7 linked regions of the Homo sapiens genome follow. The protein of the gene in region 5 interacts with the protein of the main gene of each other region in a biochemical or structural test. Each region holds a gene or a part of one and is shown on either strand. Other genes may lie near its edges.

What was found.
Region 1: the proteins of CLTC (region 5) and EHD1 form a complex in vitro, tested with the Homo sapiens proteins (one study listed by BioGRID).
Region 2: the proteins of CLTC (region 5) and HIP1R form a complex in vitro, tested with the Homo sapiens proteins (one study listed by BioGRID).
Region 3: the proteins of CLTC (region 5) and TMEM94 interact in a surface display test, tested with the Homo sapiens proteins (one large-scale study listed by IntAct).
Region 4: the proteins of CLTC (region 5) and TOM1L1 form a complex in vitro, tested with the Homo sapiens proteins (2 studies listed by BioGRID and IntAct).
Region 6: the proteins of CLTC (region 5) and PICALM form a complex in vitro, tested with the Homo sapiens proteins (one study listed by BioGRID).
Region 7: the proteins of CLTC (region 5) and ERG form a complex in vitro, tested with the Homo sapiens proteins (one large-scale study listed by BioGRID).

The regions. Positions count from the first base shown.
Region 1 is NC_000011.10:64,872,122-64,875,621, reverse strand, and holds part of EHD1 (EH domain-containing protein 1), read left to right. Parts: intron 1-1,103; coding exon 1,104-1,201; intron 1,202-3,500. UniProt on the Homo sapiens protein: ATP- and membrane-binding protein that controls membrane reorganization/tubulation upon ATP hydrolysis. In vitro causes vesiculation of endocytic membranes. Acts in early endocytic membrane fusion and membrane trafficking of recycling endosomes.
Region 2 is NC_000012.12:122,841,957-122,845,456, forward strand, and holds part of HIP1R (huntingtin-interacting protein 1-related protein), read left to right. Parts: intron 1-3,500. UniProt on the Homo sapiens protein: Component of clathrin-coated pits and vesicles, that may link the endocytic machinery to the actin cytoskeleton. Binds 3-phosphoinositides (via ENTH domain).
Region 3 is NC_000017.11:75,459,635-75,463,134, reverse strand, and holds part of TMEM94 (transmembrane protein 94), read right to left. Parts: intron 1-3,500. UniProt on the Homo sapiens protein: Could function in the uptake of Mg(2+) from the cytosol into the endoplasmic reticulum and regulate intracellular Mg(2+) homeostasis.
Region 4 is NC_000017.11:54,949,352-54,952,851, reverse strand, and holds part of TOM1L1 (TOM1-like protein 1), read right to left. Parts: intron 3,335-3,500; coding exon 3,229-3,334; intron 2,808-3,228; coding exon 2,726-2,807; intron 951-2,725; exon of another isoform or gene 1-950. UniProt on the Homo sapiens protein: Probable adapter protein involved in signaling pathways. Interacts with the SH2 and SH3 domains of various signaling proteins when it is phosphorylated. May promote FYN activation, possibly by disrupting intramolecular SH3-dependent interactions.
Region 5 is NC_000017.11:59,622,895-59,626,394, reverse strand, and holds part of CLTC (clathrin heavy chain 1), read right to left. Parts: intron 1-3,500. UniProt on the Homo sapiens protein: Clathrin is the major protein of the polyhedral coat of coated pits and vesicles. Two different adapter protein complexes link the clathrin lattice either to the plasma membrane or to the trans-Golgi network.
Region 6 is NC_000011.10:85,975,085-85,978,584, forward strand, and holds part of PICALM (phosphatidylinositol-binding clathrin assembly protein), read right to left. Parts: intron 3,010-3,500; coding exon of another isoform or gene 2,986-3,009; intron 1,599-2,985; coding exon 1,539-1,598; intron 1-1,538. UniProt on the Homo sapiens protein: Cytoplasmic adapter protein that plays a critical role in clathrin-mediated endocytosis which is important in processes such as internalization of cell receptors, synaptic transmission or removal of apoptotic cells.
Region 7 is NC_000021.9:38,488,478-38,491,977, forward strand, and holds part of ERG (transcriptional regulator ERG), read right to left. Parts: intron 1-3,500. UniProt on the Homo sapiens protein: Transcriptional regulator. May participate in transcriptional regulation through the recruitment of SETDB1 histone methyltransferase and subsequent modification of local chromatin structure.

The sequences.
Region 1 (3,500 bases), on a different chromosome or scaffold from region 5:
ACAGATAATGGGTCAGTCTTTTCTTTGCTCTCACTACCTTTTTCAGAGAAGTTTTTTGTTTGTTTTTTTGAGACAGAGTCTCGCTCTGTTGCACAGGCTGGAGTGCAGTGGCGCACAATTTCGGCTCACTGCAAGCTCCACCTCCTGGGTTCGAGCAATTCTCCTGCCTCAGCCTGCCGAGTAGCTGGGACTACAGGCGCGTGCCACCATGCCCAGCTAATTTTTCTATTTTGGGTAGAGATGGAGTTTCACCATGTTGGCCAGGCTGGTCGTGAACTCCTGACCTCAAGTGATCTGCCTGCCTTGGCCTCCCAAAGTACTAGGATTACAGGCGTGAGCCACCACGCCTGGCCTTTCAGAGAACTTTTCAAAGGAGCTTTTTCTGCGTCCAGTGAAGGATCCCTGCTCTCAACTGAGACTGCCCCTTGCCTTTCTGGGCTGTTCTAAGCTTAGTGTGAAACTCAGATATGCGTGGCTGAGCCCTGGCCCGCAAGTCGCCAGCCTCTCCACGGCTTTGTTCTTCCTCAGCCTGCTCGGACTTTCAGAGAATGGCGCGTCTGTGCTTCTCCGTCCCACCGTCTACCAGCCTGTGTGGTCCCCAGCTTTTGCCAGCCGTCCATTTCAATTCCCTCACCCAAGCGGCTGGTTGAAAGGGCAGGGCTGGCCCTAGCAGCAGTAGGAAGCGGCCAGCTCTCTTCAGTGTGGAGATTTAGCCAAGTGCTGGAGGATTCTGAGATGGGATTTCAGCGCCCCAGCGTGACCTTCTGCTTCCCCTCCGAACTGAATGGTGACCTAGGCTTGCACAGTTTTCACTAACAAGTCAGCAGCTTGAAAGTTGACCTCTCAAACTCTAGGGGAAAAGTGTGTGAGGAAGTGCTGATTTGGGTCAGTTTGAGCCTGCTGGTTGCATTCCCAGTTGAGAAAGTCCATACGATTTGCCGGCCACCCCGGGAAACTAAGACGATAGAAAACCACCTGTCAGTTCCCCGCTGCTGGAGAGGAAGCCAGAGATGGAGCGAAGGAGTACAGAGAGCCCTTTGTTGTGTCCGGAGCAGTGATGACTGTGTCTTGACGCCTCTCTTCTGGCTCTTGCTCTCATGTAGGTTCATGTGTGCCCAGCTGCCCAACCCCGTCCTGGACAGCATCAGCATCATCGACACCCCCGGGATCCTGTCTGGAGAGAAGCAGCGGATCAGCAGAGGTAAACAGCTGTGACCACAGCTCGGGCTGCTGGTGTTGTCACACATCCTTCTCTCTAAGATCTGCAACTTGGTTCAGATGCTGCCCTTGAGATTTCTCCTTTTTTTTTTTTTTTTTTTTGACGGAGTCTTACTCTGTCACCCAGGCTGGAGTGCAGTGGCGCGATCTCAGCTCACTGCAACCTCTGCCTCCTGGGTTCAAGCGATTCTCCTGCCTCAGCCTCCTGAGTAGCTGGGACTACGGGCATGTGCCACCACGCCCGGCTAATTTTTGTATTTTTCGTAGAGATGGGGTTTCACTATATTGGCCAGGCTGGTCTCGAACTCCTGACCTCATGATCTGCCCGCCTTGGCCTCCCAAAGTGCTGGGATTACAGGCGTGAGCCGCCACACCTGGCTGCCCTCGAGATTTCTTCCAGTCTCAGCCTTTCTAAAAAAAAAAATGTGGCCGGGCACGGTGGCTCACACTTGTAATCCCAGCACTTTGGGAGGCCGAGGTGGGCGGATCACGAGGTCAGGAGATTGAGACCATCCTGGCTAACACAGTGAAACCCCATCTCTACTAAAAAATAGAAAAAATTAGCTGGGCGTGTTGGTGGGCGCCTGTAGTCCCAGCTACTCGGGAGGCTGAGGCAGGAGAATAGCGTGAACCCAGGAGGTAGAGCTTGCAGTGAGCCGAGATCGCGCCACTGCACTGCAGGCTGGGCGACAGCGAGACTCCGTCTCAGAAAAAAAAAAAAAAGTGTCCGAGTAAGAACCCATTTTACATCAGCCTCCCATCTCCACAGTGCTCTGTGCACTGAGAGGGCGGGAGCTGCTTTCTTTCTTGGCTCCCTGGGCCTAGGCAATGGGAGCAGCCATGGTGAGACCACAGCCAATCTTATGTGGCTGTCATGCTTTTGAACCCCTGGGGCATGCTGGAAACAACAGGATCAGAATCGGGCCATGCTGTGAGGGTGCAGGAAGCATTGCTGACTCTGAACAAGCCCCTGGTCCCCAGAGCTTATTAGCTTTAGTCTGTGTTTAACAGCCTTTGCCCCCCAAAGCCATATACATTCCTCACACGTCCAGCAGGACTGAGAGAGAGCCAAGCAAAAGGAGAAGCTGGTAGAAATTCATGAAACGGGCTGGTGGAAATTTGCTTACATTTGCTTAGAGGTTGACAGCAGCCTCCCTGGCTGAGGCCTTCTTGCTATGCAGTAGTGCACCGTGCCCATTCCAATTGTGTAAACTCCTGCCTAGATTCTGCCAAGCTCTTTTGAAGATCTGGTTCAGGATGAGCCTGAACTGGGTCCTCCATCTGTCACTGCCCCTTTTTCACAGACGGGTGGGGCGCTTTGGGGCCTGATGCTTTCTGGGAGGAGCTTGAGGGTAGGCTGGTACCTGGCAGGTGAGGAGTGGAGTCTACAGCTCCAAATGTGAAAATGAAATAAGATCAAACTCAAAGAGGGGTTGAGGACAAGTGAGCAAGTTTGTTGATGATTAACTTGCAGATCCTTCCCGTGTCCCTTACCCTCTGGACTGGCCTTTGCTGGGTGAGCCTTGCAGTCAAAGCCGGCAGCTAGGATTTGGGGTGCACATGTCTCTCTGCTAGGGCTGTGAGGGCATGGGGACTCTGTTCTTGGAGCTGAGAAACCTTGCTTCTCTTTCCTTCCAGCCTTGCGGGCCTTGCCCGTGTGGGACTGCATCAGAGCGTACTGAAATCACTGGCCCTCATCTGGTTTCAGAGCTGCCAGTTAAGCTGTTAGATTCTCCCACCCCTGGTGACAGTGATGCACCTAGGAGTTAAGGGAGTAGATTTGGAGACCCCTTTAAAAAAAAAAAAAAGCGAGGGCTAGTATTTTTATTTCTTACTGCTATTGTTGTTCCAACCTAGTTTTAGTAAATGCCGGATAAGCAAAAGCCCTGTCATTTGCCAAAGCAAGGTCAGAAAATCTGATTAAGTTACTCTTTTATTTTTTTGAGACAGAGTGTCGCTCTATCGCCCAGGCTGGAGTGCAGTGGCATGATCTCGGTTCACTACAACCTCCTCCTCCCTGGTTCAAGCGATCCTCCCACCTTAGCCTCCTGAGTAGCTGGGATTACAGGTGCATGCCACCACGCCTGGCTAATTTTTATATTTTTAGTAGATATGGGGTTTCGCCATGTTGGCCAGGCTGGTCTTGAACTCCTGACCTCAGGTGATCTGCCCGCTTCGGCCTCTCAAAGCATCATCACAGCCTTGAACTCCTGGGCTCAAGTGATCCTTCCACCTTAGTCTCCCGAGTAGCTGGGCCCACAGGCGCGGGCCATCATGCTCGG
Region 2 (3,500 bases), on a different chromosome or scaffold from region 5:
GAGTGAGGGGAGATACAGGTTAAATGGAGCGGAGCAGTTGCCCCTGACTTCCTGTCTGCTGGAGCTGACCCAGCTGTCCGCCTCGCTGCTTTGCGTGTGGCCATATCCCGGCCTCCTCAGCTACAGAAACCCTGTGTTTGCTCTGTCAATGGCCTTTGAGGGGACAGACGCATTTGAATGAGATCTCTCTGTCCTTCAACCAACTCTTTGGAAATGTTAAAGCAAAATAACCTACCGCTCTGCCAGCGTCCGTCCGTGTGCCCCAGCTCTTTGAAGAACGTTCTTGTCCCTGCCAAGTGCTGCTGTTAGGTGCCACGATAATACAGCACAGGGAGGCTTACGTCTGATTCATTTCAGCGTTGATTTTAAAAATAGAAATTGTTTTATAATTACTTTTACTCTGCAGCTCTAGTGGATAAATTATTAGCTGGAGAAGGAGAGACTCAGTGCCCTGAAGTCGTCCAGTACTTGTCTTTGAAAGAGCTCTTGTCCTTCGAGTGTTCACCCTTCCATTTGCCCAGTGGGGATTTGCTGACAGCCAGATGTTGGTTTGGGCCTAGAGATACAGCAGGAAGGAAGATGTCCCTGTATTCGGGGGTTGGAGGTGGGGACAGAGTATGATCGGTGGACAGACAACTCCGGAGCCTCCTGGGCCACAGGGTGCCGCGGGGTTGGCGTGTGGGGCAGCCGCTGCCTGGAGCCTCCCAGCTCAGTTGCCTGGCTTTGCTGACAGTGCCCATTCCTGCGGTCTGTTTCCATCTGGACTCCACATCAGGCCTGGGCCAGCAGCCTCTCGGGAGCGTCCCCTGCCTCACCCTGATCTCCCCTCTTCTGAGGCAGCACTCACTGAGATGCTCGCTGGGGTGTGCCCCATGAGTCTCAGTCCAGGGACCAGTGCAGCTCTGGGCTGCTCACGAGTCAGCGGGCTCTGTCTGGCCTGATTGTTCCTGGAAGCAGGGCAGGTGTATCCTGAGGGCTTGGGCTCCCCCTGGCCACTGGACTGAGCTGAAGGCCGCAGCCCAGAGGCAGATGCCCTCGCCCCAAGGGATGGGGGTAGTGGGAAGGGCCCTTGGCTCTGCCAGCCCCAAGGCCTTCGTTAACTTGAGATTTGAACAAATCCTGATCCGGAGCCCACTCGCAATTTGGAGGCATGTTAGCAGGCCCTTGGGGAGTGGGGCTCCTGTGGTGGGACGATAAGGATGTCTATGCTGACACACTTCTCCCACACCCAGGCCTAGCCCGCACCCTGAACTGTGAAGGCCATGCAGCCCAGGGCCGCCTGGGAGGGGCCTGAGGGGCTCCATCTCCATCTCTGGTCCATGTCTGGCCCACATCTTTTTGTTATTTATGACCTTGGACAGGTGGTTAACCTGCAGCCTCAATGTCCTCCCTTGCCCACCTGCTCCGAGGTTCCTTGTGAACATTAATGAGGCAACACTGGAACAATGCTGTCTGCTCGGGGGCCCAGTACAAGGCTGAGCTCAATAAAATTGAATTTATTAATAGGTTATTGAGACCTGTCTGCTGGCCTTATGGCATAGAGTATGTTCTTACACACTTGGCGATGCCAGCTATCCTGAGTGTATCTGCAGAGCCTCACCTGCCCCCTGGGCCCCTGGGTGCCCCTGAGCTTTGTCCCCACTCTCTGTCCTTAAAGGTCAGGCCCCTCCTGCTGCCAGCACTGGGCAGGATAAGAGCAGGCTCAGAGAGTTGTGAGCAGGTGGCCCCTGGGGCGTGGGTGTGGACTCCGAGGATTTTTCGAGACCCGAAAAGCTGCAGGGTCTGTGGAACCAGGCAGGAGCTGACCTCACTCTGCTTCTGCCCCTCTCTGCTGTCTCTGCGGACCCTCCAACTCCCTTCTGCAAGGTGTCTCACGGCGCTGTGGAACTCTCTATTATTGTTTTGTTTTGTTTGAGATGGAGTTTAGCTCTGTTGCCCAGGCTGGAGTGCAGTGGCATGATCTTGGTCACTGCAGCCTCCCAGGTTCAAGCGATTCTCTGCCTCAGCTTCCTGAGTAACTGGGATTACAGGCACACACCACCATGCCCGGCTAATTTTTGTATTTTTAGTGGGAGTTTCGCCATGTTGGCCAGGCTGGTCTCAAACTCCTGACCTCAAGTGATCCACCTGCCTCGGTCTCCCAAAGTGCTGGGATTACAGGCATGAGCCACCACACCTGGCCTATTATTTTTACTTTTTAGAGGCAGGTTCTCACTCTGTTACCCAGGCTGCAGTGCAGTGGTGCTATCATGGCTCACTGCAGCCTGGAACTCCTGGACCCAAGCCATTCTCAGCCTTCTAAGTAGCAGGGGACTACAGCCGTGCACCACTACACCCGGCTAAGTTTTAAATTATTTTTGGTAGAGATGGGGTCTTGCTAGGCTGGCCTTGAACTCCTGGGCTCAAGTGATCTCCCACCTCAGCCTCCCAAAGTGCTGGGATTATAGGCGTGCGCCACTGTGCCTGGTCCCCCTCCATTATCACTTCTGTCCTGCTTCCTCCAGAGACCTCCCCTGACCCAGCCAGACACCCCTCCCTGTTGTGCCCAGCAGTGGGAAGAACAGCATCCTCCTCCTCATGCTCTCATGCTGCACATTATCACTGCATCCCCTGCAGAGCCCTGGTCCCACAGCCACTCACAGCTGTGTGGAAACTGCCCTGCCAGGCTGTGTGTGAGGCCCCTGCCTCTTGGGAGCTGGATGGGAGCTGTGGGTGCTGAGTAGCGGACAGACCCCGGGGCGGTCACATGTGTCCTTATGATCTTCCTTTCTCTAGCACTGGGTTTTTCCACCCTGAGCTGAGGTCCATAATCAATCCCTTCCACTCCTCAAAGGCTGCGCTGCCCTGAAGGGGTGTCTCTGGCAGCTGACCAGCCAGCCTCTGGCCTGTGTCAGAGCTGCTGGGGTTGTTCTGCCCGAGGGGCCACATGGGGCACAAATGCAGGCTAGAGAACCCAGGGACAGGCCTGGGCAGCCCTCTACCTCCCATGGCACGCTGCAGTTTCCCCACCTTCAAAATGGGGAGAACTACGTTCACCCCACTCGGCAGCTGTGAGGACAGCATGTTGAGAACCTCAGGACCCAGAACCAAGTATTGCTGGCAGTTGGACCTGCCTCGGGACTGTAAGCCTCAGAGCGGAGCTGCGTCAAGGACACCGTGTGGGTCTCACCACAGAGTGAGCCCGAGTGCCTGCTGCTGCGGCCCTCAGAACCCTGGAGCCACTTCCGCAAGGGAGGGTCAGCAGCAGACGGGAGTAGGTGGGACATCACTGGGACCTGGCGGGCTTCTCCCGGGACAGGGCTTAGCTGCTACTGCCTGGTCAGAGGCGAGGCCCACGGAGCAGCCACAGACTCCCACTGTGCGAGCACTGTGCCTCCTTGTGTGGCGCTCTGAGCCTGGTGCACACATCTGCCCATCCTAGACACAACGGGGCTGTGTTCCCAGAGCCAGCCGGCACCCTGCCCGGGAGGGCCCTGCTGCCACGGATCCTGTCCCCTGCC
Region 3 (3,500 bases), about 16 Mb from region 5:
TATACACGTATATATATACATATATATACACACATATATATGTGTGTGTGTGTGTATATATATATATATATATATATATATATATATATATATATATTTTTTTTTTTTTTTTTTTTTTTTTTTTTTACTTTTTTTATTTTTGGAGACATGTCCTCATTCTGTTGCCCAGGCTGGAGTGCAGTGGCATGATCATGGCTAACTGCAACTGCAGTCTCAAACTCCTGGGCTCAAACAATCTTTCCACTTCAGCCACCCGAGTAGCTGGGACCACAGACACATGCCACCATGACCAGCTTTTTTTTTTTTTGTAGACACAAGGTCTTGCTATGTTGCCCAGACTGGTCTAGAACTCTGGGGCTCAAGCAAATCCTCCCACCTCAGCCTCCCAAAGTGCCGGAATTACAGATATGAGCCACTGAGTCAAGCCTAGAACTGTATATTTTTAATTTTTTTTAATAGAGATGGGGTCTCACTTATGTTGACCAGGCTGGTCTCGAACTCCTGGCCTCAAGCGATTTTCCCATCTTGGCCTCCCAAAGTGCTGGGATTACAGGTGTCAGCCACCATGCCCAGCCTTAGAACTGTATATTTTTAAAAATGGAATAGGCTGCCCTGTGAAGCAATGAGCTCCCATCACTAGAGGGAACCAAGCAGAAGCTGAGAAATTATGGAGATAATTAATACATGAGGTGGAGGGTAGGAAGACAATTCTAACCCTGAGAGAATGTGAAACCAAAAATCCAATAGCTTCTCCATATGCAAAGATGCTCAACTCTGCTTATAAAAGACATTCAGGCCAGGCGCAGTGGCTCACGCCTGTAATCCCAGCACTTTGGGAGGTCGAGGCTGACAGATCACGAGGTAAAGAGATCGAGACCGGCAGATCACGAGGTCAAGAGATCGAGACCATCCTGGCCAACATGATGAAACCCTGTCTCTACTAAAAATACAAAAAAATTAGCTGAGAGTGCTGGTGGGCGCCTGTAGTCCCAGCTACTTGGGAGACTGAGGCAGGAGAATCACTTGAACCCAGGAGGCAGAGGTTGCAGTGAGCCGAGATCGTGCCACTGCACTCCAGCCTGGGCAACAGAGCAAGAAGACTCTGCCTCAAAAAAAAAAAAAACAAAACAAAACAAAACAAAAAAAACTGTAAAATTTATATAGGAGATAGGAAAAAATCTTTGTGACTTTGGGTTACATTTCTTTTCTTTTTTTTTTTTTGAGACGGAGTCTTGCTCTGTCGTCCATGCTGGAGTGCAGTGGCACGATCTCGACTCACTGTAAGCTCCGCCTCCCGGGTTCGCGCCATTCTCCTGCCTCAGCCTCCCGAGTAGCTGGGACTGCAGGCGCCCGCCACCACGCCCAGCTAATTTTTAGTAGAGACGGGGTTTCACCATGTTAGCCAGGATGGTCTCGATCTCCTGACTTCGTGATCCGCCCACCTCGGCCTCCCAAAATGCTGGGATTACAGGCGTGAGCCACTGCGCCCGGCCTACTGTGGATTACATTTCTTAGATTCAGTACCAAAAGCATAATCCACAAAAGGAAAAATTAATAAATTGGAACTGAGTGGCTAGGGAATGGTTGGGAGCAGGAAGAATTTTTACTATATATACTTTTTAAAAAAATTCTTTTTTATACTTTTTTCTGCCCTTGAATACATATACTTTTGTGCCTTTTGATTTTCAAACCATGTGAATGTATCCAATATGTCTTTAAAAGATCAGCAACTTCAGGCTGGACACGGTGGCTCATGCCTGTAATCCCAGCACTTTGGGAGGCCGAAGCAGGCGGATCATCTGGGGTCAGGAGTTCGACATCAGCATGGCCAACATGGCGAAACCCCGGCTCTACTAAAAATACAAAAATTAGCCGGGCACGGTAGTGTGCACCTATATTCCCAGCTACTCCGGAGGCTGAGGCAGGAGAATTGCTTGAACTCGGGAGGCGGAGATTGCAGTAAGTTGAGACCACACCACTGCACTCCAGCCTTGGGCAATAGAGCAAAACTCTGTCTCAAAAAAAAAAAAAAAAAAAAAAAGCCAATCGCAAAAGGACAAATGTTGTATGATTCCTCTTATATGAGGTTTCTAGAATAGTCAAAATCACAGAGACAGAAAGTAGAAAGATGGTTGCCGGGGGTGGGAGCAGGGGGGAAATGGGGAGTTAAATGTTTAATGGTGACAGAGTTTCAGTTTGGGAAACTAAGAAAGTTCTGGAGATGGATAGTGATGAGGGTTGCACAACAATGCAAATGTACTTAATGCCACAGAACTGGTTACAATGGAAAATGTTATACTATGTATTTTTTTCCTTAATTTTAAAAATCGGCAACTTCTGGCCACCTGTAATTCCAGCACTTTGGGAGGCCGAGGCAGGCAGATCCCTTGAGCACAGGAGTTTGAGACCAGCCTGGGCAACAGGGCAAGAACCGTCTCTGTAAAAAATACAAAAATTAGCCAGGTGTGGTGGCATGTGCCTGTGGTCCCAGCTACTCAGGGGGTAAGGTGGAAGGATCACCTGAGCCCAGAAGATCAAGGCTGCCGTAAGCCGTAATCACACCACTGCACTCCAACATGGGCTACAGAGCAAGTTCTGTCTCAAAAAAAAAAAAAAAAATCAGCAGCTCCTGATTCTGATTTTGCAATAGGCTCTGCCTTATAGCTAAGCAACATTCCCTACTTGGCTTTCACGTCAACATAATGAAGGTTTACGCTCTTTCAGTACACCTGAGTCTTTGTCCAGCATACATCTTTTTTAAGTGTTTCCCAGTATTTTTCTATTCACCTCCCTACCAAGCAAGACTGGTACCATGAACCCCTTTTTCAAGAAGCCCTTGAAGTTATGAAAATTGGGTTCATTTAATTATAGTACACTAAAATTTATGGTTCCTCAAATACCACTCTAAGCCTTTCAAGGTTCTTCTCTCTGACACCCCTCACCCCTCTCCCATCACTTCTGGCCTTGGGAGCTAGAGAAACCCAAAGCAAGCAGTGTGTGGTTTGCTCCTCCTTACGCAGGCCATCAGTGTCTAAATCTGGCCCTTAACCTACTTGTCATGCCATGTGACCCATACTGTTTACTACCGTCTCAGTGGCCACAGGCAAAGCTTATTATTACACAAACCCCTGATCACCAAACCACACATTCTGGCTGGCGGGTCTGCTCGGAAGAAAAGCATTCCTGTTTCAGCCATGGCCTACCCTCTAGTTCACCTGTGCTGCTATAAACAAACCCAGGCCTGCTTGGAAACGGGCTTTAAACAATATTTTTAAATCCTATCATTTGGGTAAAGAAAGACACCATCGTAAAAACAACACTAACACAATAGTAAGATAAGAAATATTGACACATATTTACCAACCAGTGCCACGCCTGACCCAGAACCTTCTCACTTGAACACCAGGAATGGACTTAAAGGCTTTATGGCGTTCAGGCTTAGACTGCTAAGGTACGAGTTCAACCTGATTCATCAGATTAAGCTAAATACATACAGCCTT
Region 4 (3,500 bases), 4.7 Mb from region 5:
ATCAGGACAGAATAGAGGTGTTCTGAGCCCATGGCACTGCCATGCTGGCCCTAGTTCCTGGGGAAGTTCCAGACTTGGGGCCTCATATGACTCCTTGGCTAATGCGGTACTAGATAATTGTATAGCATTAGACTGCCTCTTAGCAGAACAGGGAGGAGGAGAGTGTGCAGTTATTAATTCCTCTTGCTGTACCTGAATAAATACCTCAGGGGAAATAGGAAGTTAACATTAGGAAGGTCCATGCCCAAGCCTCTTGGTTCCACACTTTTAATCAGCAGCCATATTTTTTTTTTTTTTTTTTTTTTGAGACAGTCTCGCTCTGTTGCCCAGGTTGGAATGCAGTGGGGCACGATCTGGGCTCACTGCAACCTCTACCTCCTGGGTTCTAGCGATTTTTCTGCCTCACCTTCCTGAGTAGCTGGGACTACAGGTGCGCACCACCACACCTGCCTAATTTTTGTATTTTTAGTAGAGACGGGGTTTCACCATGTTGCCCAGGCTGATCTTGAATTCAGGGTGATCTGCGCGCCTTGGCCTCGCAAAGTGCTGGGATTACAGGGGTGAGCCACCACATCAGGCCTAATAGCCATACTTCTAATTCTGTTTGAGAAGTTCTCAAATTAGCAATACCAAGTGTTACTTGGTTTCTTCCCCTAATGAGGCCACTAATTTTATTGCTCTTACTACTGTTGTTTGGTCCCTGCATCTTTAACCTCTTCGTAAAATTTGTATCTTCCAGATTAGAAAAATTTCAACTGTAGGTGCCTTTGCAACCTATCCTGGGAGACCCTAAAACATATTTAGTTTTAGTGCCTAGAGATTTTCACTCCTCTAACATCTCTGGATACAGTGTCCCTGGTCAACATGAAGAAGTTACAGAAGAACGCTTTCTGATCCTGGCCCCTAAAGAATTTACTTGTGCTAAGTAATAAAATTCCTATTGATCAAAACCTGTGTCCTTGTGGAGAGTCAGATATCTGTTACTATCCAGGTGAATGAACCCTGGGTTTTTTGGGTGGTAACAGGACCTGAGGGGCTGCAGAGCCTACCTGTGTAAAGGAGATAGCTACTACTCAACCCCAGCCCATAGCTAGCACGTAAAAATTCAGGCTTCGTGTTGACAGAGTATCTAAATGATCTAGAAGTCCAGAATTTTTATTTTCAAATATCCGAGTTTTCAGCTGTTGGCAACTGTGGTCTTATGATACATACTGGTTTTTGTCTAAGGTTCCTGGCTCACAACTCCCATAGCCCTTGTTACAGTCTTTTGTTATAATGTTGGGTGTGTCAGGCCTTAGGAGCCAGCCTCTGGAAGCAGAATCTCTCGACCTTCTCTAGTCCTCCTTTCACCTGCCCCAAGGCACCACTCTAATCGCCCACCTTTGTCACTGTGGGTCATAAGAGCCTCCCTAGAGAGGGTCCTGCCCTATACCCTGGGGGAAGGAATGCTGACATCAAGAAGCTTCCATTAAAAACCCTAGAGGACTGGGTTGGGGTTGGGTCAGGTCAGTTTCTGGATAGCTGAACACGTGGAGGTACCTGGAGGGTGGGACTCCAGGGAGGGCACGGAAACTCCATGGCCTTTTCCGCATGCCTCGCCCTGTGCATCTCTTCATCTGCATCCTTTGCAATGTCCTTTATAATAAACCAGTAAATATAAGTATTTCCCTGAGTTCTGTGAGCTGCTCCAGCAAACTAATCAAACCCAAAGAAGCAGTCATGGGAACCCCAACTTGAAGCCAGTCAGTCCTAAGTTTAGAGGCCCAGGCTTGTGACTGGTGTCTGGGAAGGTAGGTGTCGGGGTGGTGGGGACTGAGCTCTCAACCTGTGGGGTCTGACACTATCTCCAGGTAGATGGTGTTGGAATTGAATCAGAGGACACCCAGCTGGTGTCCATTGTAGAATTCATTGCTTGCCTGCTGATGGGGAGAAATCCTCACATATTTGGGGGCCACAGAAGTCTCTGCATTCATTGTTATATTAGAGTGAGAGCTGAGGAAAAACATGGTTGAGAGTTTCCCAAACCAGCAATTAATTTTTTAAATGCACATTTTAAATTCTGCACAGGTCAAAAACAAACAACTGCAAGCAAGATAGAGCCTGTAGGCTGTCAGTTTCTGAACAATGATTTCCAATAAACGTGCTTTAATAATTTTTAACAATTTGGGGGTAACCTTCAGTCACTCAAAGTATATTAAAGTTCTTATGACCTTACCATTCCATTAATATTTATATATCTTGACCAATATGAAATCATAAAAGAATGTTGCTTTAAGGATTTTAAGTAAAAAGTAATTGTACTAATGCTTTAGAAGACTAAAAACAAGTTCTAATATAAGATTTTTTTGGATCAGTTCATAAAGAGCAGCTAAAATATTCCATCAATGTGGCATAAACTTATGTCACCAATCAGTGACTAGTACCCTTCTCAAGCTAAAGAGAACATGACTTTCTGCCAAGGGATCTATGAGGAGTCCATTAAGCAGGTTAGTTCCAGTTATTTCTTAACATGCAACCCCAGCATTTTTATTTTTTAGTCACAAGGCCGGAACGATAAGACCATTAAGAGTAACAGCTGCCATAAAACCTCATAAGGCATTTTTAATAAGGCCATCAATTTCTGCCAAGACCTAAACAAAGTTAAATGTATAACCAAGCCCTGTTAGCTCTGCTATCAAAGGGAACCAAGACAAAAAATAAATTAATCATTTTGTAAATGACTTACTCTGTAGTGACAGCAGGAGCTAAGGGATCAAACTCCATTACCTCGTAGTAATTAGGTGGCTGGAGATCACTTTTTGTCATCGCTTTGGGCAAAAAAAGAGACCAGTAAACATATTGTGCTTTTTGAGGAGTACACGCAATTGATATTCTTTTTATAATTTAGACTTCAAATATTAGATCCTAATAAACACAACCAAAACAGACTGGTGTCCCAATGCTACTCCCAAGTTCAACAAATCTGTATGTATCAAAAAGGTTTCCAAACCTCAACTAAAGATTCATTTACCTTAGCATTCAAAACACAATACTCAGTTTAACACAAGCATTTTTACAGTCTCTTATAAGTCAGTCATAATGGTATCTGCCCTGAATTTGTTTCATTAGCTTAAAAATACAAAAGAGCATCTCTAATTTCTCCTATTTTCAGTTACCAATGAATCTCTGGCAGACTCATATATTCTCATAAGTTTCCTTATTTGATGCGAATAATAAGGTCCCATGTACCTGGATGATTGCTGGGCAAAGGTGGCAGACTCTGGTTTGATGGTGCTGCTGCAATGGTTTGTAGACTAACTGGCTGTAGAAACACTGAATTTGAATGTTCCAGAAACTGAAGAAAGCATAACACATGTTCATATAAACGTTCTACATTAAGCTTTTCTTTTATTACTGAGACTCCTACACTTGCAAGTACATTGTTCCAAGAACTTTGAACTGGACAAGAATAAGTTGTTTTTAATTATTACTTTAGTTTTTTTAGGTAATAATCACTTACG
Region 5 (3,500 bases):
TGAGACTCGTGGAACATAATAAAAGATTTATTTAAAAGTTTCTTTTTGGGGGGCAGTTTCAGAGTGTAATCAACTTTGTATCATATCAATATTTGTATTAAACTGTGCACAATATCAAATGTTCGAACACATAAAAGATCCACAATCAAGTAGACAACATCAATGGTTGGAATAACAAGTGTACAGCCTTTGCCAACTCATCAATGGAAGCATGAATGCAAGGTGTAGTCCATCTTGTTTACCACCTTGTCCCTAGAGTCTAACACAGTTCCTCATCTGCAGTAAGTACTCAAATCTTAGGTAAATGTGTTAACCCCAAATACTTATACACCATAAAACACTGGATCTGTAAATGAATATTGTGTCATTGGTTGAGATACCTGAATAAAATGTACTGGACAAAAATTATTTAGCCAATAATTAATGCTCCTAAAATGCTACGTAAAGTACTTTCACATACATGATCTCAGATCCTCATAATAACTTTGTGAGATAAGTATGCCCATTTCCCAGAGAAAAAAAAGCAAGAGGTTAGACTTAACCTGTGTTGTCCAATATGGTAACCACAAGTCACAACCTACATACCATAATGAGCACTTGAAATGTGGTTACCGTAATTTTAAAGTAATTAAAATTAAATAATAACCAGTAAGTGATTCAATTACTGGAAAACTTAAGTATGTTTGGGATCACTGAAGTATTGCATATCTGCTTTCCTTTTTCTTCATTTTTGTTTGTTTAATATAGAGACGAGGTCTTAACTCTGTTACCCAGGCTGGTCTTGAATTCCTGGGCTCAAACAATGCTCCTACCTTGGCTCACAAAGTGCTGAGTTTACAGGCATGAGCCACTACCCCCAGCCCCAAATCTGCCTTTCTAACTGTAAATTTTATGAACTCTAAATACGGACCAGGATTTCCAAAGAAAATAGGGTCTGAATTGATATATGCTCTAAGTACAAAATATACATAGCCGGGCACGGTGGCTCACACCTGTAATCCTAACACTTCGGGAGGCCGAGGCAGGCATTTCACGAGGTCAAGAGATTGAGACCATCCTGACCAACATGGTGAAACCCCATCTTTACTAAAAATACCAAAAAATAAAAATAAAAAAAAAATAGCTGGGCGTGGTAGCACGCGCCTGTAGTCCCAGCGACTCGGGAGGCAGAGGCAGAAGAATCACTTGAACCTGGAAGGCGGAGGTTGCAATGAGCCGAGATCCACCATTGCACTCCAGCCTGGCGACAGAGTGAGACTTTGTCTCAAAAAAAAAGAAAAAAAAACCACACACACTAGATTTAGAAAATTTAGTATGAAAAAGAATGTAAGGTATCTCATTAGTAAATTTTATACTGATTACATATTGAAATAATATTTTGCATATCCCAAGTTAAATAAAATATATTAAATTTAATTTTATCTGGGCATGGCATGGTGACTCACGCCTGTAATCCCAGCACTTTGGGAGGCCAAGGCGAGCAGATCACTTGAGCCCAATAATTTGAGACCAGCCTGAGCAATATAGCAAGACTCTGTCTCTACCAAAAAAACCCAAAATTAATTAATTTTATGTTTTTTCACTTTTAATATGGCTGCTAGAAAACTTAAAAAATTATTTATATGAGGCCAGGAGCAGCAGCTCATGCCTATAATCCCAGCACTTTGGGAGGTCGAGGTGGGCAGATCATTTGAAGTCAGGAGTTGAAGACCAGCCTGGCCAACATGGTAAAACCCCATCTCTACTAAAAATGGAAAAATTAGCCAGGCATGGTGGCAGACACCTAAAATCCCAGCTACTTGGGAGGCTGAGGCAGGAGAATCACTTGAACCTGGCAGGTGGAGGTTGCTGTGAGCCGAGATCGCACCACTGCACACTAGTCTAGGTGACAGAGGACAGAGTGAGACTCTGTCTCAAAAAAAAAAAAAAAAAAAAAAAAAGTATGTGGCTCATATTATTTTTCTATTGGACAGCATTTGTTTCAACAACCCCTAAAGCCCTCCCTGTTCTGTCTACTATACCACATTGTTAATCTATAAACAAGTAGAGAGAACTCACCTCTCTGGGCCTAAGTCCAACAGACAAAAAGCACTCTAGGATACTGTATAACTTCTTTTTTTAAGGTCAATTATCCAATTTCTTTGAAATATTTTGTGTCAGAAGACTCAGGTACACATCCCATTCGGACAGCATTCCCACTACTTTATGAGTCTCACTTTTTAGAAAGGTGTCTGGGGGGATTGAGTGAAGATCTGAAAGTACCTAGCCAAATTTACAGCACATAATAAGGTCTCAAGAAGTCTGCTGCTAGTCATTGTTCATCACCACCACTTTCCAAGACAGACAGTATTCAGTTAAAACTTTTGAACAATGAGTGTTTTAATTTTAGCTAACGAAATATTCTAAATACATAAACATGAGTGGTGAGATAAATCTTCAAACTTACAAAACACATCAGCATGGCCTATAATTGTGCAGTCCAATGTAGGAGTCAATTGTCACATGTGGCTATTTACATTTAAATTAAAAAGAAATTAAAGCAAAAATTTAGTTTTTCAGTCACATCAGCCACATTTCAAGTGCTCAATATCCCTATGTAGCTGGTAGACAGTTCCATCATTGAAGAAAGTTCTACTGGACAATAACTCAAAGAGAAAAAGCCACAACGGTAACAATGACAGGGAAAACACCTTGTTAAATATAATTTGAATAACATATAAACATATGTATGGAAAAAACAATTTTGCAAAGAAGCTGAGGATTCGATATAAATGGAATCTTTTAAAAGCAAGGTACAAATTCCAATTATGGTCAGAAACAATTGTTCAAGAGCAACTACCATGGTTCCTGAAATGTGAATTTTCCTAAATACTCAAATGAAAATGATTGTGTTCTACATACACACCATTCTGTGTCTTATTTCCTAATCAGAGTGAAAGCACTTTCACTAAAATTAACCACACACTTTAAGCTGGGTAAACTGACCATCAAGAAAATTCTGAAGAATATGATACATTTTAAACTTAGAAGCTATTCCCAGGAGACTGCCGCATAATTCCAGGAAGTCTACCTCTTCCAGAGAGTACAACTAAGCATGTAGTAAATCCCAGTACTTAGCATTGCTTTCTATTCACAATCCGAACTAACTATAGCAAGAACCCCTAACATTTGACTCAACAACACATTCCATGCCTGCATCTATGGATCAAAGGGGAAAGAACAGGGTAGGGAGATTTTTAATTGAAGACCCAAAGAATCTAGGAATACAATGGAATGTGTCAAGTGGCCTAAAGATACTTAATGTGCCAGAAAATTGAAAATCACCAAAAAATTAAGAATCACAGGCAATATTTTATATATGTAGCCTAGGATTTTTATAGAATCTTCAATTCCAACAGTATCTTGCTCAAATAGGCACTCATTTATTAACTGCTATCAGTCTAAACAGTCTAGGAAAAGAGAAATCTTCATATATTCACATTCATTTGCTGTAGGTCCAA
Region 6 (3,500 bases), on a different chromosome or scaffold from region 5:
GTATTACAACAGATAAAATGATTAAGACTAAGAGTTTCCAAATTTATCAGGTTTAGACATCAAGAAAACTTAAGACTCTGTCTTCGCTGCTAAGAAATTTCAAAGTAAATTTGTATAACAAATCAAGTACTTTTGCCATTATGCAAGTGATCACAAGTGAAGACAGTTGATTCTCTGAATAAGCCTGCTCTAGTTCTTCCATTTTATTTCATATAAGAATCAAGAAAGAGCTTAAACTACAAACCAGAGGTTAACTCTTTCTTGAGTAACTGAAAATACAATCTCAACCAAATATGTTTCTTTAAAAATTACCACTACAGGGTATAAAATTAACCTAGTAAGTGACAATACCTAGTGTAAAAATAATGCACAAACAGAATACTGTTTTGGTTAAAATGCAATGCTCTAAAATCTTTCCTTTCAAGAAGTTCTATTTATTGTTTCAAGCAGACTACTATTTGCATTTAGAGCTTCATTTTAAGTTTATGGCCTGAGTTTCTCAGCAGACTTTTTTTTTTTTTTTTTTTTTTGAGATGGAGTCTTGCTCCGTTGCCCAGACTGGAGTGCAGTGGCATGATCTCAACTCACTGTGACCTCTGCCTCCTGGGTTCAAGCCATTCTCCTGCCTCAGCCTCCCAAGTAGCTGGAATTACAGGTGTGCGCCACCATACCCAGCTAATTTTTGTATTTTTAGTAGAGACGGAGTTTCACCATATTGGTCAGGCTGGTCTTGAACTCCCAACCTCAGGTGATCCACCCACCTTGGCCTCCCAAAGTGCTGGGATTACAGGCGTAAGCCACCACACCCAGCCTCAGCAGACATTTTAATGCAATGACTATGAAAAAAAGCTGTGAAACTTCTCCACATGTATAAAAGGAGTTACTTCCATATCATATACATAAAGAAGTAACATAGCAGGCACAGTAGCAATACCAAGGGACACGGTACTGCCTTCTACCAGGAACAGTTCCTCAAATACATACCAGTGGGTTGAAGCTACTAGCACCATTTCTTTTCTAATTGAGTCTCTATATACTGAGAGTTGGGAAACTAAGGGCAATCTAAAATGCACATTGTGGCATTTTGAAAGGTTAAAAGACTGTTTTTGTACTGTAATAATCATTGTCACAGGAAAATTTCTCTAGCCTTTATCAGACTAAATTTATCTCTATACAATTCAAGTGTTAATCCCTCCCATGCCCTACAATATCAGGTTATAAGACCTCACTGGTATTTAATATATGGTCACAGCAACAAAGGCTTAGAATTAACATTAATGTTTGAAATATAAAAGGCCCAGCAAAGTTACGAGGAGAAAAATAAACCAAGTAATACTATGAACATTAATGCATAAGATCTCTTGTATAATGATTATTCTAGACATACTTATGAAACCAATGCTATGGTTCTACTGCATTAGGCACTAGGGCTAGGAGTATGAGGAGCACTAAATTCTTTTTTAGGTTAAATTGTAATAAAAACATGTTATATATGAATCAATATTTTTTCCAAAAGCTGTACCTAGGAAAATACTTACAATTCCATATCCTATCATGCCTGTTGGTGTAGTAGCAGGATAGGCCATTACAGGGGGTGCCTAACATAGTGAAAGGAAAAATGAACAAGAAAGTATAACTCATGTGTGTCAACTGAGTTCAAGGAATTAGTAGCTGTAGTTCCACTAAAAAGAATTGCTAAGACAGCTGTGAGTAAGTGACACTTGTGATCATTAAGAACTGTCGATTAATGGTCAGTGAAAAAAAGTGTTTTGAAATTAGCAGAAAAGCAGACTTATTAGAAGGATAACTATACCACTTAAACTTAGATACAGCAGTGATCTAAGATTTCATCATGCTTTTTACAGCTTTAAAAATCTTTAGATTTAAAAAAGTATCTTAAATAGTTCTAAATAGTTCTAAAATTTAAAGCCTATCACTATCATTAAAAAATGTCTACCCAGAAAAAGTATTATTGAATGTTTTCTTACTTAGGTACCTGATTGCTTTAGCATTCAAAGAAAAAAATGTAAAGATCTCAAATCAATCAATAACCTGATCTTCCAAAAAGTTAGTTTCTAAGGATCTTACTCACTCTTTTCAAAAAACTCCAAAGGTTTCAAACTACTATTGAGTATGACTATTTCTATGAGCCATAGTTCTTATATAGAGTATGTACGTTAGCTTTCTAATTTATTCCAAAAATTATTTAAGAGGAACAATCAATTAGGTCAGTTTATGCTTTCATGTTTAAAAGAACCATCTATCACTATGATGTTTAAGTTCCCCTCTTCCTACTACTTTGATTATCTGTAAACATACAATTTGAGAACAGAATCATTTTAGATATAGTTGCTGTCTTAACAACATTTCCTGTGTGTGTTTCTCATAATGAAAACTGAAATTGAATAAAGGTGAAAGACCAATAACACTGCTAAAACATAAAATAACTGAAATTATATGGCAATTTGAACATATGCATGGAGAAATTAAATGAAATATAACTTTAAAAAAATAACACTAAAGTGAATAGTTATAAGTTTAGTATTCGGGTGAGCGTGTAGGACTTATTGGTCTCTCCCTACTTAAAACCAAGATCTGCAAGAGCAGTAGACAAACTGCCAAGAAGAGCAGAAGCCTGTAAGATTTCATGCAGTTGTTATTTTAAACATTACCACAATCAACATTTCCCTTCATTCAGAAGTCATCAAGTGCATAGTGGCAGCACAGATACACACACAGACACCCAGCCATCTGGCAGCAAATGGCGGAATATTAAGCAAGAAAAAAAATCGGTATTTCCCATGCCACCATCAGAATCAATTCTGCAACACACCCATGAAATCAGTAGATGCTAGGAAGAATTTCTGGCACATTGAAAATCTGAATGTGAAAACAAGTAATAGCTGAAAGGTTATGAGATTCTGCTACAGCAGTGGTTAATAGCATGCCAATTTATTGCAAAAAGGCTCGTTTTTGGTCACTTACGTATTGTGGAAAATGCATGCCATTCTGTTTTTCCCAGGGAGAACAATTACATAATGCAATAACACTGGATTAGAACAAGTACTTACACAACAGAAAATACACAGAGAGCATTTTAGTTCACATGTACATTCACTAACTACCTAAAATCCCTTGTATTTCCAGTATCTAATGAAAGAACATCTATACTAAAACACTATCAAGGTTGACAAGGGAATTGTAGTCTTTGGCCTCATCTCTTTATATAAAAAATAGTTTATTGATTACAAGTACCATTAAAACATCAATTCTATCAACAGTGTCAACAGTGCAAAATTTTGGGCATTGCATAAACAGGGTTGCATCAGATGTCTACCACAGAAAAAAAGCAAGCACTAATTAAAAGAATTTGTAGTATAATATATATTTTAATAAAATTCCAATGAATTTGTGTTAAATTTAAAAAACACTGAAAAACCTTGACAGTGTTTAAGGATTAATAAAAAGGTTAGAAATGTAAAGAAATGTCAAAAGCAGCA
Region 7 (3,500 bases), on a different chromosome or scaffold from region 5:
CATCCTGTAGATGGCTAATTGATGATGCCCTATTGTTTAGTGTGTGTGCACTGTGGTTTTATTTGCTTCGGTTCAAAGGGCCTAAACAATGCATTCGTTGGAATTTAGTAACTGCTGTAAAATCAGCACAGAGAACAATCTGTGAGCTGATATTTTTTGTACCCAAATCTGGTAATCTCTGCTTGACTAAAGAAAGCAAAATCTAAAATGACCTTTCAACTAACCATAGAAAAGGCCTTCCATTGAATCTCAAAGAGACTTATTTTTCTACCAAATATAAAAACATTCGAATTATGCATCATTTTCCATGATTCAAAGGAGACAGAGGTGCCTACGGGGCATGTTACTCATAGACAAGTCTATTCTAGTCTAATCACGTCCCCTTAAAAATCACCGAGTAGATGACACCGAGGATGAGAACGAGGTACTGTAATCATTACTTTAGAAACTTTATATTTTTACCTGTTTCAAGACAGAATTCTCCTAGAAAATCTGGAGCAACAAGCTTATTCCCCTTGGAGAGGAGATAACGAATAATGGACCACGCATTCGGAGAGAGGAAGTTTCCACTGGGAGCCCTTCCTGCATCAGTGCGTCTCTGGTTGGGCTGGCTATCTGTGTAGGAAGTGAACGCAGGAAGTATCTGTCTACAAACCCTTTATCCTCAAGGTAATTGCTGTAGCAGCATTTTACTGTTTACCAAAGCAGTAAACATGTGATCTAAAAAAAGATGTTTTCCATCTCCAGAAGAACAAGGCTTTAAAAAATGTATACATGTGCTTATTTTGTAACCAGCTTATCAAAATTGGTTACAATAGGCTTGGGCTTTCAACAGTGAGTCCATGAAAACAGCTCTTGGGATGGACAGAGGTACCCTCACAGGGATGCACAAGAAACAAAGAAGTGGCTTCCTTCACTAGAATGCTATCCTAGCAACACACATTTTATGTCTTTTCTCCTAAGACCGGCTTAACCGAGTTCATACTGTTTGGCTTACAAAGAAGGTAAAGTCAACAAAACTATCTATGTTAATTCAGGTTGGTAGAATGAGTAATTCACAAAGTCCAATAACTCATAAAAGTCACTTACATTTGGCCTTGGACAATATTCTTATTTTTACGTGACTATAAATATGCTTCCAGTTTAGGAGTTCACACAAGACAAAGTGAAAAGTTAGAACTCAAAAGGAGATGTGTAGTGGCTGCTTTTGCTGACTTTTGCCTGGCGTAGGCCAAGCCTCCTGGTCCGTCTTTTCCTTTGTTTCTTTATTCCAGATCAAGCTTGCAAACCTGCACCGTCCCAGATTTCCTGGGGTAAGAGAAGTGATTGTCTAGGAGAGGCAGCTTGGAATGAATAAAAACAGGTCCAGGAAGGATCCCTCAGCATTTAAGAGGCTCAGGAGGGGTCCCCCTCATCATCCTTGTTGTCTTTTGTGTTTTTCAAGCCGCCTTCCAGGTGGATAGCGATTGCAATGAGAGAGAAAGAGTATGGAAGGAGAATAAGAAGAATAGGGAGACACAGAAGTTAACAACGCCCTGAATGTCTCCTTCCAGGACCTGCTGTGCAGTGTCCGGTGAACTCACCAGCAAGCATTTCCCAGCCCTGTTTTAAGCAATCTCCAATGCAGATCAGGTGCTCGTGAATAATTGGGAGCTCACTGTGTCTGTCAGAGTTCTTACTTTATAATGAAGAGATAAAAACATGTTCATCACAGGAAAATGGACAAATTGGCTAATTGAAAACAAAATTCAATTCACAAACTGTTGTAGAAATTGAAAAAAAAAAGGTAGGGGGAAATGCTTTTCATAGATTCCCTGATTTTAGTCTTAGAAGAAAAATGTATTTGGCTTGAATGAATAGTAAAATTAACTAACTTTGATTGAGGAGCTTATGTGTGCCATATACAGTTCTGGGCTCTTGCGACTTGGTGAATCTCACTATAACCCTGTGAAGTAGGAACTATCACTCTACCCATTTCACCGATGGAAAAGCCTATCTCCTGTGAGGCTGTGGCTTGCCAAAGGTGAAATGGCCAGGAAGTAGAACAGCCAGGGAGTGAACCCCAAAAGCCAGGTGGGAGCCCATTTCCCCTGCCCACTGCACGAGACCCCTCCCCGGTTTGAAGATCCGATAGGGGCACTGCTGTTAGCTCCCCCTGCGTCCTGGCAGCAGCACAGTCAGCAGATGGTCACTGTGGAGAAGGCGGAGCTGACCACCTCCATTTTCCTATAAGGGAGCTAGGGCCAGGAGAGGTGCGTTCACCTGGGGAAGTCCTGCAGCATCAAACTAAAGCTCCGGGCCACCCTCTCCCAGATGGGCCTCTTTCCACTTCCCCTTGCCAGCAGCTATATCTATGCCTCCCATCCGTTGCACGGAAGATAAGGCCAATCCCTTTTCCACAGAGGCTATTTTAAGGATGCCACGAAGAAATACAGAGTACCAAGTGCCTCCCTGGGCCAAAGATAAAAGTGGGCTGTGCTCTCTGGATTCAACCTTCATGTTTTTGATGCTCTCTGGAAGGTCAGGGAAGGCACACATATCGTATGGATCCAAAGAGGACTACGCAATGCAAAACCACATACTTTTTTTTTCTTTTTAACTTGGAGCAATGTCTTGGGACATCTACCTCAAATTGAGACACAAACTAATTGTGTTGACAGATTCTAAAGTGTTGTTTCAACAGTTTCTTCTTCCTCAAAGGTGAGCATCATGTGCACACTGTCAAAATTAAAAAAAAAAAAAAAAAGACCCAATAAAACCCGATGAAACCCAAAGAGCATGGAGATGAGAAACTCACTGCTGGCTGACGATCTGAATGAATGGCCTTGGGGGGAATGTGAATGTGGAGGTAGCAGAAGGGTCCTGTCTTCAGTGCTGATTCTGTATCAATACTTGGTAAATTTAAAAAACAAAAAAACCAGCAAGGGAGATTTTAAATCATCAAGGCAGAAGGATTTAAAAAGTGGAATGTGTTAAATGCAAGAGTGCGGGATCTTTGCATAAAGTTATTATATTTTCAAAAATTCGACAAGCATTGTTTTTACCAAACGTGTTTAAAGTAACAGCCCTGAGGTTAATGTTATGATTGGATTCTGATGTGGCACTTTAAAAATAAATCATTTTGCTTGGCCTTAGCATTTCTTTTCAAAATGTCTCTGTACTTATCTGTGTACAACAGCAGATTACCGTTCTTCCCAGAGTTTAATTCCATGAACACCCTGCTGAAAGACTTGTTAAGGCCTTATGGAAAACTCTGACCTGCGTGTTCATTATTGACGCCCAAGACGAGTGCAAGGAAGTTGATACTTGGGATGAGGAAATTTAAATCAGCAGCTGATCTGGAATCTGGAAGCACTGCCCCTTGGATCTCGCCAAATATGGAAAGAATTCTTGTCACTGAGCAAATATAGAATTCAGTGCTAGAGTTTTACCTCTTGAATTTTCTAGAACTTTGTTTTGATTAGCCACCTAGAGTATAAGAATTGCTGCCTATGGGATTT